2 separate regions of the Homo sapiens genome follow, and region 2 is linked to region 1. Evidence: fine-mapped expression QTL. Tissue or cell type: blood mononuclear cells. Region 1 holds a variant in brackets; the other region holds the start of a gene. Each region is shown on its reference strand, or each on the opposite one.

The links. PIP is the estimated chance that this variant, and not a neighbour inherited with it, causes the effect.
Region 2: STK38 starts here. The variant in region 1 is fine-mapped to the expression of STK38 in blood mononuclear cells (TOPMed, PIP above 0.99).

The regions. Positions count from the first base shown.
Region 1 is chr11:70,016,420-70,021,793 of GRCh38, reverse strand. It overlaps a transcript of ANO1 not described here. Among named protein-coding and RNA genes, the nearest start is that of LINC02753, 46 kb to the left of the region's middle. The variant C/T (reference allele first, on the strand shown) is at 2,281.
Region 2 is chr6:36,544,838-36,550,189 of GRCh38, reverse strand. STK38 (serine/threonine kinase 38) reads left to right here and starts at 2,711. Exons shown (of 14, transcript NM_007271.4): 1 at 2,711-3,000. RefSeq lists a silencer at 2,566-2,905 and an enhancer at 2,653-3,176.

The DNA of each region.
Region 1 (5,374 bases):
ACAGAGGGATGAGTTTACAGGGCTCTGGCTTCAGTCTCTGGAGCCTTCCTGGGCAAGAGCCTGGCTCCCGAGGCCTTGCCCAGCCTTGGGCTGATGTTTAACAAATGTCACCGCTGGAATTTCTCAGACGATCGACATGGGAAAAACCGAGGAAGAGAGGGACCAGGAAGTGGATGCATTAAAAATAATGAGGCCGCTTTAAATGGACCAGGTTCCGGGGGACAATGGGAACCACGTCCTCAGTTTATTTAAAAATACACTTTATTTTCCATTCTGTTTCTGTTTAATTTCTTCTGATAGAGCTAAAAAAAAAAAAGAAACAACAACAACAAAAAGCACTCTCCTTATTCTAAAAACTGAAGTTGGTATATAGCTTTACAAAGAAAAAGAAGGGGTGGGAGTGAAAAGTATAGGTCACGACAGCCCCCTGCAACCACCACGCTCCCTCGCATGCACGAGGCCTAACCAACGTTCGTCAAGTCAGTGAGCACGTTGGCATTTGGAGTTTAGGATGAAACAGAGCTTTAGTCTTAAGCGGGATGACAATGTTTGGCATATTAGGAAGTTCTATCATTTTTCTTTCTCTTTTTGCTGATCAATATTTTTTCTCCACTAGATAATTCCATGGGGACAGGAGGATTATGGGCATGCGTTTGGGAGCGTAGAAGATGGGGGTTCGAATCCCTCCTCCCCCTTGGCAGCTGAGTGAGTTTGGATATGAGTCATTCTTCCTTGCAGAAGAAATATGAATTCCCACAGCGAGTCCACGTGCTCACTTATGGCCTGTCTGTAAAGGACGCACCCAGCCCGACGCCCGCAGCGAAGCACCTCTCGGTAAGTAGCAGTTACGACCGCGAACGATGACTACGAATGAGAGGCTGAATGGTCACTGGGCCTGTTTTTCTAAAAAGGTTAGCTCTTTGTTTGTTTTGAATAGTCCAGCCTTTTGATGCTTGGAGAATGGGAATGCGTTTCGGGCTTGTTTCTGGGTTTAGTTCTCTGCTGAGACACCTCTGGGAGGCTTCCTCTAAGTCTGCCCCCTGGGTCTAAACTGGCACCCACACCCAGCACTCTGTCCCCCTCTGGGGAACCCATGTCATCCCAGGCTGTCGAGATGGACTCTGTGGGATTGGGTTAGGCTGAAGCTTCACACCGCAGCAGCGAAGAGGGGTGTGGAGTGTGTTCTTGGGGTTGGTAGGGAGGTGGGGACAAATACCCGTCTGGTGACCCTTGGCCGGACCCACTGAGCTGGGAAGGAAGAGGGCCTTTCCAGCTGTCTGAGGGAGGTGCTGCTTTTCCTCCTCCTGCCAAGGCTGGAGAGAGGCTCAAGGAGCCCCAGGGGCTGGGGGAGGGTGGACCAGTCTGACTCTTTCTTCAAAGGCATCTGGCAAGAGGGTGGCATAAGTGTCCTGTGCAGTGGAGTGCGGCTGTCCTGAGTGAGAACTGACCCCACCACCAGCAGAGATGATGAGGGTGGGTGGTGAGGATGGAAGAAGGGTGTGGGGGATTTCCTGTGGATAGGAAGTGGGCTGTTGGGCAGGAACTGGCAGGAGTGAGGGGTCCCAAGCTTTCGCTATCAGACACATGTGCTCATGGGGTCCAATTTGGATGTTTTCATTACCCCATGGACTAAACAATCCACAAGAGTACCCTCAAATGAGTCAGCTTTAAACATCTGCCCCAGCTGGGGGGATAGAAGCCCACCAGATCACCTAGCGCCCGCCCACCAAGCCTGACCTCCCTGCCCTGCTGGCCTCTCCCCAACCTTGGAGGGTCCGGGGGAAGCCTAGAGATTGGGGAGGGGAGAGGGAAGAGAAGCAGAAGCAGAGAGACCCAGAGCCAGGGGCCCTCGGCCCCCTTCCCACTCCGAGGCCTCAGCCTGGGGCTGGCTGGGCCGGTGAAGCCAGGAAGATGACGGTTTTCAGTGAAGACGTGCGTGGGACTGGACATTTCAGTGATCCACATGAGACCATGTTTTTGTGATTAAAAGTGGCTGGGAAAGCTTTCATTATGAGACGACCAGGAAGTCATGAGGCCTGCCCTAGAATTACCCAAGGGGCTGAGAAGAGCCAGCCCCAGACAGTGGTGGGTGGGTAAACTGGCCCTTGGAAAGAAAACACATGAAAGCTGACTTAGAGTGTTTGCCAATTGCGGAGGTGTAAACCTTCCCATCATGGCCCATTTTAAGCTCCCAGGGTGATGTCACTGAATGCATACTTGGGAAGATACAATTGGCTCGGGTGAGCTGAGTCCTGGTGAGCCCGTGTGAATTGGGTGAGC[C/T]GGCTCCTGCACACCCAGAGGGCAGGTCTGAAGGGGCACTGGGGGAAAACCTGGACCATTTCCTGCGGCACCCTCTCGAGTCCTGTTCCTTAATGTAACGGTTTCCTTGCTTTCTTTCCCTTTAGAACATCCCTTTCCTCCTCACATTTTATGTTTGCATGCGTGTGTGCATGTGTGTGTGCGTGCGTGTGTGTGCATGTGCATGGCATGTGTGTAGCGTGGGTTGTGAGTCCATAGACGGGGGAGTGAATGTGTGTGTGTGTGTGTGTGGGGGGGTTCTTCTTTCCCTCCCCTGCATCCCAAGGTGCAGGAGAACAGCACACTATTTTGATCACTGCTAAACCCCTTCCACAGAGGCCTGCTTAGGTCTGGCTCAGAACAGGCTCTCAACATTTGTTGAACGAATGAATAAATGAATGAATGGGGCACCTCCTCCAAGAAGCCCTCCCTGGCACCCAGGTGAGGACAGGCCCCCCTCCGCCACATGGCTGCACAATGCCATGGACTTTGCGTACTTATTGCCGCAGGATTTTCTCCCTTCCATGGACTCTAACTGTGTGTGAACGGCTGGGAGGAAGCTCCTCTGCAGCTGAGACTGAGGCTGCCTATTTTTGGCCATGTCCCCGGTACTGAGCTCCATGCCCAGCACTTAGCAGGTCCTCAGTAAATATTCCCACCAGATGAACAGATGCATAATGAATGTGTGGTCTCTTGCTGGCACAGACTCAGGGGATGGGCTTCAGCCTGAGGCCCAGGTTTGTTCTTCAGTCTTTCCGTTGCCTTGGAGTATCTGTCCGATGGGCTACATCCTGCTGCAGCAACAGTCATGCCCTGGTCCTCAGAACTTCCAAAAACACTTTATTTTCTGCTTGTGCTTCCAATGTCCAAGCCAGGTTGGGAGGGGGTTCTGCTCAGTGTAGTCTGGAAGGGTCTGGGCAGGTGGTGCAGCTACGGTCCCAAACACTGTCAGGCACAGAGAGTGCAGTGGAGTCTAGAAGCAGCGGAGAACTGCTCCAGCTCAGAAGCGAGCCATGTCACCTCCACTCACGGCTTGAGAGCTAGGACCAGCTCACAGCCCACCTGCCCACAAAGGGCCAGGAAGCACCATCCATCCATGATGCTGGAAGGGTCTTGAAATTCTTTATTTTTTTTTCATAGAGACAAGGTCTCATTCTGTTGCCCAAGCTGGAGTGCAGTGGTGTGATCACAGCTCACTGCAGCCTCGACCTCCTGGACTCAAGAGATCCTTCCACCTCAGCCTCCTGAGTAGCTGGGACTGCAGGTGTGTGCCCCCATGCACAGCTAAATTTAAAATTTTTTTTGTAGATATGGGGTCTTGCTCTGTTGCCCAGACTGATCTCTTACTCCTGGGCTCAAGAGACCCTCCTACCTCAGCCTCCCAAAGTGCTGGAATTATAGGCATGAGCCACCATGCCTGGCCTCTTCATAAGTTTTGAGCAAAGCCTGCATTTTTGTTTTGGACTGGGCCCCACAAACTATGTAACTGGTTCTGATGGGATGGATGGTTGGGGAAGCTGATCTTTCTTGGAGGGGATTGAGGAAAACTCTCAGAGACCATCAGGGAAAGGGGGCTGGAGTTGCAGGCAGGGGGTAGCTAGAACCTGCCCATGAGCCACTGAGGATAGGCATATGGGTTTGTTTGTGTAAAAGGCTTCATTAAAAATGGGAAAATAGGCCAGGTACTGTGGCTCATGCCTGTAATTCCAGAGCTTTGGGTGGCTGAGGTGGGAGGATTGCTTGAGCCCAGGGAGTTCAAGACCAGCCTGGACAATATAGTGAGACCCTGTCTCCACACAAAAATAATTTAAAAATTAGCTGGGTGTGGTGGTGCACACCCGTAATCCCAGCTACTCGGAAGGCTGAGGTGGGAGGCTCCCTTGAGCTTGGGAGTCAAGGCTGCAGTGAGACATGACCATGCCACTGTACTCCAGCCTGGGTGACAGAGTAAGACAAAAAAGAAAGAAAGAAAGGAAGGAAGGAGGGAGGGAGGGAGGGAAGTAAAGGAGGAAGGGAGGGAGGGAAGGAGGGAAGGAAGGAAGGAAGGAATGAAGGAAGGAAGGAAGGAAGAAAACTGTTGCCCAGGCTGGTCTTGAACTCCTGGCCTTAAGTGAAAAAAATAAAAATGAAAATCAAAATGGGAAACACGCTCTGGGCTGAAAAAGAATTTCATTTGATCCCCAAAGAGTTTCCTTTATGATTCATTGTGTAGACTTTTTGCAGTTCCGTTGGGGTAGGGGAAAAAGAAACCACAAAAACTGTAAGTTCACAAGAAAAGCATTATTAGGGCGTCTGGCCTTTGTTCGGACCGCTAAGCCTCATCCTCCTCCGGATGGGGAGAGAAGACACACCTTGGCCCGCGTGGGATTTTGTTCATTCATCAAACAAGTATTTGGCTGAGCCCTGCTCTGTGCCAGGCATCTTTCTAAGGAAGTGGGCAGTGAGCCCTGCAGACAGGAATCCTTGCCCCCGGCAGCCTGGATTCTAGAGGGGAAGAAAGACCGGGAAAAGAAAGAAAGTAAACTAAGTAGAATCTCTAGTACGAAGCACAGTGACACTTGGTAGAAGAGTTAAGCAGGGGCAGGATGTCTGAGGGACAGAGGGCTGCAGTGTGAGACAAGCAGCTGGGAAATGGCCTGGTTTAGTCACAGATCTTGGTAGAAGCCCTGTATCGATAGCAGATTCCCTATCTCCTTTGCCCACAATGTCTAGAGTGCAGCCAGATTAAGGGTGAGCCCCACAGCCCTACTTTGGGGCCTGGCTTGAGCCGTGACCCTCTGCAACTCTTTTGCAGACCCTGAGGTCCCTGGCGGGATTGTGCAGGAAGACAAATGAGGCTGCCACTGAAATGCATGCCCCGCGCTCCCAGGAGCTCCCAAGCCTGACGGTGGCAGAGCGGAGCCCCTACAGCGTCCTAGTTTTAGCTCTCTCTGTGGAATTCCCCATCCGCAGCATCCCAGGCTGGCCACTGTCCTGTGACCACAATCACATGACCCCAGAGGGGCTGAGGAATGGTGCTTGGACCACCTCATCTTCTCTTCACTTCCAGATCCAGGTTCAACAGCATAGGTAAGCC
Region 2 (5,352 bases), not on the chromosome of region 1:
GCTCTCCAGCCTGGGTGACCCCAGCCTGGGTGACCCCGTCTCAAAAAACAAACAAACAAACAAACAAACACGGGGATGTGACAACATCAAAATTATGCAGGTCAGATCTTTCTAATTTCCAACTCACAGTCTGGGATGGGTATAAGTGATTTCAGTTTTGGTGATAGGAAAGGGATTCAGATGCTCAAGTGGCCAAAAAGAATGACAAACGTCCATTATAGTTATTGGAATCTTGGTAAAATGTCACCTTTTGGGTTCCTGCAGAAAGAGCAGCATAATTTGGCTGGGCTGTTTTGAGGAAAACTTTAGTGCTTATTTGAGTTGTGGTACAGATAAATTAATATAGGAGGAAAGGGCCGGGTGCGGTGGCTCACGCCTGTAATCCCAGCACTTTGGGAGGCGGAGGTGGGCAGATCACGAGGTCAAGAGATAGACAGCATCCTGGCCAACATGGTGAAACCCCATCTCTAGTAAAAATACAAAAAAAAAAGGCCGGGCGCGGTGGCTCACGCCGGTAATCCCAGCACTTTGGGAGGCCGAGGCGGGCAGATCACAAAGTCAGGAGATCGAGACCATCCTGGCTAACATGGTGAAACCCCGTCTCTACTAAAAATACAAAAAATTAGCCGGGCTTGGTGGCGGGCGCCTGTAGTCCCAGCTACTCGGGAGGCTGAGGCAGGAGAATGGTGTGAACCCGGGAGGCGGAGCGTGCAGTGAGCAGAGATCGCGCCACTGCACTTCAGCCTGGGCAACAGAGCAAGACTCCGTCTCAAAAAAAAAAAAGAAGAAGGAGAAGGAGAAGGAGAAGGAGAAGAAGAAGAAGAAGAAGAAGAAGAAGAAGAAGAAGAAGAAGAAGAAGAGGAAGAAGAAGAAGAAGAAAAGATTAGCTGGGCATGGTGGCACGTGCCTGTAGTCCTGTAGTCCCAGCTACTAAGGAGGCTGAGGCAGGAGAATCACTTGAGCCTGGGAGGTGGAGGTTGCAGTGAGCCGAGATCGTGCCACTACACTCCAGCCTAGTGATAGAGCGACACTCCGTCTCAAAACAAAACAAAAACAACCCCCCTCCCCCCACCAAAAAAAACATATATATAAGAGAGAAGAGAGAGTGAAATTCCTCTTCTGAAACTGGGAAAGTTCCAGGAGGAAGATAAGGTTTGAGCTGGGCTTTGGAAGGAGGAAAGAGAAGAGGAGAAAGAACATTGGATTTGCAGACAGAAAATGGGGTTCCCCTCTTGGCTACTTGGCTTACTAGCCGTGGGAATTCAGACAAGTCACTTAGCTTCTCTAAGTATCAATTACTTCATCTGCAAAACCTCGTGTGTCACTGCCAAAGTGAGGACCAAGTGAGATTAAATAAGTGAAAGTTGTTTGTAAACTGTAAAGCATTATGCAGACATCTTGGACTATTATTAAAAGCTTAAGAATGGGTAGGACTTTGACAACAGGCATTTGGGGAGAAGGGCCTCTGGGCAGAGAGAATGAAAGGCGAAGTGATTGATTGATATGTATGTAGTGACTGATTGAGACAGGGTCTCCCTCCGTTGCCCAGGCTGGGGTGCAGTGTCATGATCATGGCTCATAGCAGCCCTGAACTCCTGGACTCAATCAATCCTCCTGCTTCAGCCTCCACAGTAGGTGGGACCACAGGCACTTGCCACCATGCTGGCCAATTACAAAAATTTTTTTAGAGGTGGATTCTCCTTATGTTGCCCAGACTGGTCTCAAACTCCTAGGCTCAAGCTATCCTCCCACCTGGACCTCCCAAAGTGCTGGAATTACAGGCAGGAGCCACCGCGCCTGGCGAGAAGTGATTTTTGTTAAGAGGCTAGACAAAAGGAAACTGGGCTTTGAAGATGAAATGAATGAATAACTCGCAGCACATGCTTCCTTCTCTCCCTAGATGGCCCCTTTGCAGGCAGTCAGGGACCATGTCTCGTTCATCTTAGTTTCCAGGAGCTTGACACTTTGTAGTTGAGGGCTTTGTGCTCCATTCTCAAGAAACGACAAGTGCCCAAAGGCTATTAAACTTGGGACCTCTTTACCCCCAAAAGTAGTACAGAATAAGAGTTGGGTGGCCTTGAAAAGCACCTTCTTCTGTCCACACTGGGTCGCCCGCTGGGTAACCTCCCAAACCTATGAGAGCTCACCTTATCCCAGGTAAGGTCCTTACTTTAAGGAAGAGGAGGGGGGCCAAGGGCTCCAGCAGACCTGTTCTACACGGGGTAGGGGGGTGGGTGGGAACTATACAGGTGACAACATTTCATAGAACTACACACACACTCACACACACGCACATGACTGCATACCCAACAGGTTAAATCCGAGTGTGGTCTGTAATGAAGTTAATTGTATTGGTTTAGTTAATTGTATTGGTTTAGTTAATTGTATTGTGCGAATGTCAATTTCCTGGCTTTGAGAATGTTGTATCTTAAGAAAAATGTTGAGGTAAGCTGGGTGGGTGATGGTATAGGGAACCTGTATGTATTAATTTTGCAACTTCTTGTGAGTCCATAATTATTTCGAAGTAAAAAGTAAAACAAAAGAAAACAATGGAACTTCCCCCTCAGCCCAGCCTACTTCGAGACCGCCTCACACTCACACATCTGGCCTCACCCAGGTCCAGCCAGCCCTAGGCAGGGGGTGAAGGGAGGGGCAGGGCGGGGCCACGCAAGCGCAGTTCCGCAATCCCGGCCGCTCCGGGAAGTCGCGCATGCGTAGTCTCGGCCCCGGGCTGCCGCGCCAGCCCGTCTCCGCGGCGGGGGACCGGGCTGCCTTGGCCCCTCAGCGCTCGCGTCTTTTCCGGCAGTTGGAACGCTTCCTGTTGTCCTCACCCGTAACCGCCTGTTGCCCCCTGTCTCAGAGTCCCTCACGCGTCCCCTCCCGTCTTTGGCTCGTTGGCTGCCGCCGCCGGGGCTTCGCCAGCCTTCAAGTCGAGACTACTGGCCGAAGGGGCGTCTGCGGCTCTCCGCCGTCCCCAGCCCTGCCTCTCCCTGGGCTCTGGTGAGTTGCTTGCTGCCGCCGTCTTCACTCCATCCCGGGGTTTTTCCTTTATCTCCTCCTTCCCCAACCTCCGACTCCTTCTTGGGCTTTCTCCTGCTCGCCGGCGCCCTCTTTCAAGCCCTAACCTCTCAGCCTCTTGGCCTCTCTCCGCCCCTCTCCTTAACCCCCTTCTTCCCCCGTCTCCAGATGCCCCTTGTTGGCCCTCTCCACATTTTTCCAGTCCCAGCCTTTCCACCCCATCCTTTATCTTTCTCCTTTTGCAGTTGGAGCGGGAGCCAGGCTTTCCTTTCCATGTTGCCACCTTTGTCTGCTCCCTGCCACCAGTCAGTCCCTCAGGGATCTCGGTCATCACCGGTTTTTATCTCCTTTTCCTTCTTCTGGGGTCTGTGAACTGTGGTCTGAGGCAGAGATGTCGAAAGCCCCCCTTGGGGTGTGGTATCTTTGAGTCGGCTCCTTTCTCCGTTAGTCTTAGGATACTGGGCTTCAGATAAGCTTCAAATCACAGGAAAAGGCAGGGAAAATTCTTAAGAAGAGAGTGGAAAAGCAACAGCCAGAGGAAAAAGTCGGTAAGGGCTTAGAGGAAAGTCTGTGTCAGAAAGCGGGCAGAACGGCCGGCAGAGAGACCAGATCTCTCAGTTCATTCTGAAACGACTAAAAGACTCGGAGAGAAACTTGTTCTGTTTGAAATGCACCGAGGAGGGTTGGAGTGAAGTAGACCCTGAGTGTCTCCACCCTTTGAGCTCACCCTGCCTCTGAATTAGCCAGGCAATATATTTGGTTTCCCTAAACATAAAACAACCACCACCTCGATAACAGGCTCTCCTCCCCACCCTAAACGTTAGATACCAGCTTCCTCCTAAGAGGAGAGAACGCTATAGCAAACCATTTCATGTCCCAGCCCTATCCCCCATCACACATAAACTCCTAGGAATGGACATCAAAAATGAGTATATTTCCTAGTTAATCTTTCTTAAGGTGCTAAGTGCATAGCACTGTGCATGAAATGGGGGAAGAATATTAAAACAAGTATAAGACATGGTGCTTGCTTTCTAGTGTAGGTAGAGATTACAGTTTAGTAGGATTTACAGTTCAGTGGGAGAGATTAGACATGCGACTTAAGCAATAATCTTAGCTCCAATGTTGAATCGTCCAAATGAAAGATAATGGATTGTCAGTCGCAAAGAAATAAAGTCCATATTGTTGAGAGAGGGTTGTTTATAGTGATCACAGAGTACCATTGTAAAGTCAGTCAGTTAGCCAGGCATAACCATATAGATTGAATCACATAATGGTTTTCATTTGACTTCCTTTTGAGTTTGCAGGCCTTACACCTGACTTTTATGAGGATCAGTTCCTTTTGTTAATTTTTTAAAACTTTGAAGAATTCCTCAGCCACCTATTATTTCCTAATTCTTCAGAGTTGAAGAATGAAACAAATGGGGCAAAGGCCTCCAATGGCTTCTAGGTCAGGGCAGGAAGGCTTGAATTGTGGAAAGCCTGATGGATAGTCCTGTCTTAAGAAAAGTTGGTTGACCCAGTAAATCTATGAATTGCTATAGGGCAATATTAATTACATCTTTTGATTAAAGGATATTAGAATTAGGCTAAATTTTTTATATTACAATAGAGGAAGTGGAGGAGGGTTTAAAGAAAGGTCAAAGGGAAGGAGAGTGCAGTCTTTATCATTATATTAGAAACTCTAAAAGTTGAAAAACACTCTGCTTAAGAATTTGTTGGTCTAATATTTGAGCATCTTTGAGTTCATTTAATGTCCTTTTGATCTTTTTAAAAGTTTAGGTAGTAATGCAAGCCAGCTACTTAAATTAGTCAAAGCATTTTTGATATATCCATCAGTGTAAATGTAGTCTTTATTCTTTTTTTTTTTTTTTTTTTTTTTTTTCCAGACGGAGTCTCACTCACCCAGGCTAGAGTGCAGTGGTGTGATCTTGGCTCACTGCAACCTGTGCCTCCAGGGTTCAAGCGATTCTCCTGCCTCAGCCTCCCAAGTAGCTGGGATTACAGGTGCCCACCACCACACCCGGCTAATTTTTTTTGTATTTTTAGTAGAGACAGGCTTTCACCATGTTGGCCAAGCTAGTCTCCAACTCCTGACTTCAGGTGATCCACCTGCCTCAGCCTCCCAAAGTTCTGGGATTACAGGCATGAGCCACCGTGTCCGGCCATCTTTATTCTTTAGCTTTGTTGACAACTAAAAATCATTAACTTACTCAACTGCCTGTTATATGGAAGGCACTGTTTGCCTTAGGGTTAAATACTAGCAGATTGTTGTGTTGTGTTTGTTGTTGTTGTTGTTGTTTTTAAGACAGAGTCTTGCTCTGTCCCAGGCTGGCG